2 linked regions of the Homo sapiens genome follow. Each later gene encodes a partner of the first gene's protein in a complex. Each region holds a gene or a part of one and is shown on either strand. Other genes may lie near its edges. The genes, in order: NUP62 and NUP93.

Region 1 (3,605 bases):
TTGACGCAAAGAGGCTGGGCCCAGTGCTGGTGATGGTGGCTGTGGGTGTGGGAGCAGCTGGCTGTGTGGCACCTGCTGTGGTGGCTGCTGGCGTGGCCGGAGTGAAGGGCAACGTGGCAGGTGCCGTGGGCTGGGCTGAATTCCCTGCTGAGCCAATGTTGAAACCGGAGGGTTGGGCCGTGCTTCCACCAGTGAATGAGAAGCCTCCAGATGTGGTAGCTGGAGCCACAGAGGTGGTGGAGGGGCCAAACACAAAGCCGGTGGGTGCTGTGCCCTGGCTGGAGGTGACGGTGCTCGATATGGCATTAGTGAGGTTGCTGCTGCCCAGCCCAAAGCCGCTGGGGTTTGCCATGGCTGGGGTGGCAGCTGTGTTGCTCAAGTTGAGCTTTGAAGCACCGATCCCCAAAGAAAATCCAGTTCCCCCCGAAGCAAGAGTCGCTGTTCCAAAAGTGAAGCCTGTCGTCTGTGTGGCCGGAGTCTGGGTGGCAAGTGAGAACAGGCCGGTGGAAGGGGTACTTGTGGCTGGTTGGAAGGGAGCCCCAAAATTAAACCCTCCAGTGCCAGAGGTGGAGAAAGAAAACCCTGTAGCAGGTGTGGTTGTTGCCGTCTTTGCAGTGCCAAACGTGAACCCGCCTGTAGGGGCCCCAGTGCCTCCAAAATTAAACCCGCTCATGGCTCCGGACTCTGGTGGCGGCAGCTACTCTGGCTCCCAAAGCAAATCCGTCGGTGTCTGCAGCCTTGGGAAGATTTCTAAAGCAGAGGAAGTGACATTGTCAGATGGCAGTTTTGGAAAGGCAAGCTCAGTGGCATGACTGGGCACAGTCGGTTTGGAGGGTGGTGGGATGGGATAATGATGCATGCTGTGTAACCTAAACTAGGCTCTGCTACATCGAGAAGGATCCAGAAGCACAAAAGCACGCCCCAGGGGTCAGGTACGAGGAGCCGGGGTGCTAGGGACGTGCGTGGCCATGTTCAGCCCAGTGGAAAGCTCCCACTCTGTGGAGGACGAGGCGGGAGAACAGGACCTTGGACCCACCTCAGCCTGAGGAGATCAGATTTGAGGCACTGCCACAAGCGGGACTAGGACACACAAGAACAGCTGTAGGACCTGCTCCCAGCGTGGGACCCAGTGAGGTTCCCTGGCTGACTCTAGCAGGGTGTGAGCGGATCAGCTCTTGCCACCCTGAGGGCCTCTCTGGACCTCAGAGAGAGAGATGGGGCCGGGAACCCAGGCTGGATGGCAGGGTCTGGGTTGCTGAAGGCCCCCCAGGCCCACACCTGCACTCTCTAAGAGCAGGAGAGGACACTGGAACTCCTCCTCCTAACTCAGGGGAGGGTCTGAAACCCATGTGCTCAGAGCACAGATGCCCCTGGCTGCAGTGATTGGCTCAAGGATAAACTGAGACCTGAGCCAGGCAATCGGAGCCTCCCCTGGGGTTTTCTCCAGGCTTGGAAGGCAGCTGCCTCCTTCACCTGTAGGTGTGGTGTGGAGGATTGCACCTGGGCCTCCCTTGGACACCTTCTCAACCATCTGCAGACACTGGGACATCACGGGAGACCATGAGCCCCACCAGAGATGGGTGGGGGTGGGGGTGGGGGAGGGATAAAGAGCACCCCAGAAGACCCATGGGCCACAGTATTTCCATTCAGTTCAAACTGACTTGATTTTGGTAATGTCTAACTGAAAAATCTCCCAGTGGTGCCATCTATCAGCAGGAAGGTCAAAGGTTACCTGGTGAGGAAAGGGTGAGAGGGAGTGCTGAATAGGGGTGGTTTCTTTTTCTTTTGGGAAAGGGTTTTTTTCTGTCATACTAGCTGGAATGCAGTGACATGATCACAACTCACTGCAGCCTCAACCTCCTGGACCCAAGTGATCCTCCCACCTCAGCCTCCCAGAGTAGCTAGGACTACAGGTGCATGCCACCATGCGTGGATAATCTTTTTTATTTTTTGTGGAAATGGGATCTCACTCTGTTGCCCTGGTCTTCAACTCCTGGGCTCAAGCGATCCTCCCTCTTTGTCCTCTCAAAGTGCCAGGACTACAGGCGTGAGCCCTAAAGATGATCAGCAGTATCCTTAGAAGACGGATTTGACTGACTGGAGAAGGGAAGAAAGCTTGTGGTGACACGAGCAGACTGGAGTGATGCGCTTTGGAATCTGAAGATGTGAGAAAGCCAGGAGCCAAGGAAGGCAGAAGCAGCTCTAAAAGCTGGAAATGGAAAGAGGGAGGCCCTGTCTCAAAAAAACAAAAGAATAATCAAAGTCAAGACTGAGAAGCCAAGTGCCTGACCCAGAGAAACACCCACGAGGTCTGTTTCCTCTTCCCTCTCTCCAGGCCAGTTTTTAAATTGCTTGGTGTCTGTCCTCAGGAAATCCCCTTCCAGCTTGAGTAAGAGGCAACCTATCTCACTACCCCCACCCCTTCCACTGCACCCTTCTGCTTCCTCACAGGCCCCTAAGTTTTGTTTCGTCTGCTCCTCCTTCTCCACACAGCCAAGCAAGCCTGGGGAGATGACCCCAGGGCCAGCTGCACACGCTCTGCCTTGTCTAAGCCAGTAGATCTCAATGGGCGTCCATCACTACTGACTGGGAGCATTCAAAATACACAAGGCTGTTAGCTCCACTAAGCCAGTCTCTCCGGGGCTGGGATGCTGTGGCCCTGGCATTTTCATAAAGCTTTCCTGGGGGATTCTGAGAAAGGTCTCTTCAAGAGGCCACGGCAAGTGCCTGAGCCCCCAGGACTGCTGGGGCCTGGCCCGGCCTACATCCATTCCTCCCGTTGTGGGACAGAACAAAAGTCCTCACTGCTGAGCCACCTCAAGCCGGTGTGTTGTTACTGGCAGCTAAAGGCATCTGAGCAGCTACACCTACACATCTCAGTTCTCAAGAACTCAGCTTAAAAAAGCTTTTGCTATTAATAAGTTGTAGCTAAAATTTCCAAGAAGAGCATTTATAAAAAGCTCTTTGCAACTATGAAAAAACTACAAGGAAAACAATCTTCTATGGGGACTTGTCTGGCTTAACAGTTCACCTTTTTTTTTTTTTTTTTTTTGAGACGGGAGTCTCGCTCTGTTGCCCAGGCTGGAGTGGAATGGCATGATCTCGGCTCACTGCAACCTCCGCTTCCCGGGTTCAAGCGATTCTCTCGCCTCAGCTTCCAAGTAGCTGGGATTACAGGCGCATGCCACCACGCCCGGCTAATTTTTGTATTTTTAGTAGAGATGGGGTTTCTCCATGTTGGCCAGGCTGGTCTTGAACTCCTGACCTCAGGTGATCCGCTTGCCTCGGCCTCCCAAAGTGTTGGGATTACAGGCATGAGCCACTGCGCCCGGCCAACAGTTCACCATTTATTAAGTGCCACATTGGTTTCCAATACTCAGGTGCCAGGGATCTATTCACAATGGTGAACCCATACTGATCCAGCCCTGATCCACGCAGTTTAGATATGGCCAGGTGAGGTGGCTCACGCCTGTAATCCCAGCACTTTGGGAGGCTGAGGTGGGGGGATCGCTTGAGCCCAGGAACTCGAGAACAGCCTGGCCAACATAGCGAGATGCTGTCTCTACACAAAAAACACAAAAATGAGTTGGCCGTGGTGGCAGGCG
Region 2 (3,500 bases), on another chromosome or scaffold:
GTCAGCCCCCCGCCTGGCCAGCCGCCCCGTCCGGGAGGGAGGTGGGGGGGTGAGCCCTCCGCCCGGCCAGCCGCCCCGTCTGGGAGGTGAGGGGCGCCTCTGCCCCGCCGCCCCTACTGGGAAGTGAGGAGCCCCTCTGCCCGGCCAGCCGCCCCGTCCGGGAGGGAGGTGGGGGGGGTCGGCCCCCCGCCCGGCCAGCCGCCCCGTCCGGGAGGGAGGTGGGGGGGTCAGCCCCCCGCCTGGCCAGCCGCCCCGTCCGGGAGGGAGGTCGGGGGGTGAGCCCTCCGCCCGGCCAGCCGCCCCGTCTGGGAGGTGAGGGGCGCCTCTGCCCGGCCGCCCCTACTGGGAAGTGAGGAGCCCCTCTGCCCGGCCAGCCGCCCCGTCCGGGAGGGAGGTGGGGGGGTCGGCCCCCCGCCCGGCCAGCCGCCCCGTCCGGGAGGGAGGTGGGGGGGTCAGCCCTCCGCCCGGCCAGCCGCCCCGTCCGGGAGGGAGGTGGGGATGTCGGCCCCCCGCCCGGCCAGCCGCCCCATCCGGGAGGGAGGTGGGGGGGTCAGCCCCCCGCCCGGCCAGCCGCCCCGTCCGGGAGGGAGGTGGGGGGGGGTCAGCCCCCCCGCCCGGCCAGCCGCCCCGTCCGGGAGGTGAGGGGTGCCTCTGCCCGGCCGCCCCTACTGGGAAGTGAGGAGCCCCTCTGCCCGGCCAGCCGCCCCGTCCGGGAGGGAGGTTGGGGGGTCAGCCCCCCGCCCGGCCAGCCGCCCCGTCCGGGAGGGAGGTGGGGGGGGTCAGCCCCCCTGCCCGGCCAGCCGCCCCGTCCGGGAGGTGAGGGGCGCCTCTGCCCGGCCGCCCCTACTGGGAAGTGAGGAGCCCCTCTGCCCGGCCACCACCCCGTCTGGGAGGTGTGCCCAACAGCTCATTGAGAACGGGCCAGGATGACAATGGCGGCTTTGTGGAATAGAAAGGCGGGAAAGGTGGGGAAAAGATTGAGAAATCGGATGGTTGCCGTGTCTGTGTAGAAAGAAGTAGACATGGGAGACTTTTCATTTTGTTCTGCACTAAGAAAAATTCCTCTGCCTTGGGATCCTGTTGATCTGTGACCTTACCCCCAACCCTGTGCTCTCTGAAACATGTGCTGTGTTGTCCACTCAGGATTAAATGGATTAAGGGCGGTGCAAAAAAAAAAAAAAAAGAAATTTAGCATTTAATTTTAAGCAGAAACTCTGCCCTCAAACCTTATTAATCAGACTATGACAGGAGTAAAACACAAGAATGGTGTTCAACATTCTTGTGAATGATTCTTTCTTTTCTCATCCAAGATTGATGAGAAAAACCTCCACCCAAGGTATCAAAAGTTTAATACTGATTCTGTTCTCCTCTCTTTTGAATACATAAACTAGCTAGATGACAATATCATTCCACTTTTTACTATTATCTGTCAGCTGTCAATTACAACAACAACCCCAAAAAAATTAAATCTTGACAGACATCATTGTTTCAGATGCCTCTGGAAGAGAGAGGAGAGGGAAAAAAAAATTGTTGGAAAGTTCTTTACAGCCCTGTGAGACTAAGTAAAAGAGACCTTATCATTATTCAAAAGGTAGAGTTCTGGAGAAAACAAAGACCTAAAATAAATTAACCTAGACAGAAGAAAAAGACTTGGGTGATTTAGTAGCAGTACTGCCCTCAGTGACTCAATGTTTGCAATAAGGAATGGGTAGTATCAGCTTTCCTGATACATAAAATATCACTTGTATTATTTCCTCTTCAATGAGCAAAGAGAAGTAATAACCTGGCATCACAAAGAAAAATAAATTATCCACATAGTAACTTTCTGATAAACTCTTGGCTGTCCAGCAGAAGGCCCAGCTGGGAAGAAAGTGCTGTGGACTACAGCTTGGCTCCATCCCACGCCAGCCCTCTGACCCTGGGGCTGGATCGTCTCTGGATGAGGGGGTTGCTCAGGTGATCTCTAAGGGCCTGCTCACCTTAAAGAATTTACAAATGTGAGATGTTTTAATTCGGTCTTTAAACTTACTTGATGCTTCCTGGGAAACAGCCCCATTTTAGTGGTGATGGAAATTATCTCTACAGAGAACCTTAGGAATGATACTAGTTCTGTCTTACAACTAGCATAAACAGGGGCAGATCACCAAGTCGGCCCCAAAGGGCCTGTGGCTTTGGCTCTGGCTCTGGCTCTTCTCTCTAAACCAATGCTACTCAACTTTGCCCCACAGGGGACATTCAGCAATAGCTAGAGACATTTTTGGTTGTCACAACTTGGGAGGCAGAAGGTGTGCGGATTCTAACAAAAGTCTGGGTCCCTACCATTATAATTTTAAAACCATTGCATTTACAGAATTATCCCACTTGGGCTTTTTATGGCAGTATATTCATACCTTGGTATACCACACACAGCAATGGAAAAGAAACTACAGACTACACAGAACATGGATGAATTTCACAGACATCACAATGAGCTGAAGAAGCCAGATACAAAAAGAAAAAAAAAAAAGCACCGTATGACTCCATTTATATGGATCTTAAAAACAGAAAAAATGAATCTATGGGACTAAAGATCAGAATACTGGTTATCCTTGGGAGTGTAGGGGGAGTGCTGATTGGGAGAAAGCACAGCAGAGCTTTTCGGGTACTAAGGACTGAACTGTATTCTCTCAGAATTCCTGTGTTGAAGCCCTACCCCACAATGTGATGCTATTTGGAGATGGGGTCTTTGGGAAGTAATTAGACTCAGATGAGGTGACGTGGGTGGGGTCTTCAGGATGGGATAAGTGCCCTTAGACACACCAGAAAGCTTGCTTTCCTCCACCTACCTCTCCCCACACATACACATCAAAGAAAGGTCTTGACTACACACTGAGCAGCGAGGAAGAGGGCCCTCACCAGAACCCAACTATGCTGGCATCCTGATCTCGGACTTCCAGCCTCCAAAACTGTGAGGAAATAAATTTCTGTTTAAGCCAGAACAACAGATATTTTGATATTTTATTATGGTGATCTGAGCTGACCAAAGTACCAGAAATGCTTTATATTTCAATATGGACAGTGGTCACATAAGTGAATAAATGTGTAAAAATTCCCTAAGCTGTATACTTAAGGTTGACTCACAGTTTTTTAGAAGGAATAGCAAGAAACAAAGCACTGACTTAGCAAGAAACAACCTAGCATTACCAAGGTGAGAGTTGGGAGACTTTTCTACTTTTCATTTGATTCCCTTGTCAGGGCAAATTCTTTTCCATGAGTATATGTGATCTTACATAATTTTTAATAACTTGTTAATTTTAATATTGCTCTAAATTCCCTACTTCACAGTGTGTGTCTCACCACTGCCCTTGAAGACTCAATGGCAATGACTGTCAAATCCACACCTGCCCCCGTGCACTCAAACTCCAACCGTGAGTTTCCAGGCACCACTGGTGCATCTCCTCTCAAGCACATAACTGTCACACCCACCATGTCTCCAAATGCAGTTATCCACCCCCAACTCC

What was found.
Region 2: NUP62 (region 1) and NUP93 share a complex: the UniProt entries of both Homo sapiens proteins name them as parts of the p62 complex.

The regions. Positions count from the first base shown.
Region 1 is NC_000019.10:49,909,135-49,912,739, forward strand, and holds part of NUP62 (nuclear pore glycoprotein p62), read right to left. Parts: intron 751-3,605; 5' UTR 674-750; coding exon 1-673. UniProt on the Homo sapiens protein: Essential component of the nuclear pore complex. The N-terminal is probably involved in nucleocytoplasmic transport.
Region 2 is NC_000016.10:56,736,629-56,740,128, reverse strand, and holds part of NUP93 (nuclear pore complex protein Nup93), read right to left. Parts: intron 1-3,500. UniProt on the Homo sapiens protein: Plays a role in the nuclear pore complex (NPC) assembly and/or maintenance. May anchor nucleoporins, but not NUP153 and TPR, to the NPC. During renal development, regulates podocyte migration and proliferation through SMAD4 signaling.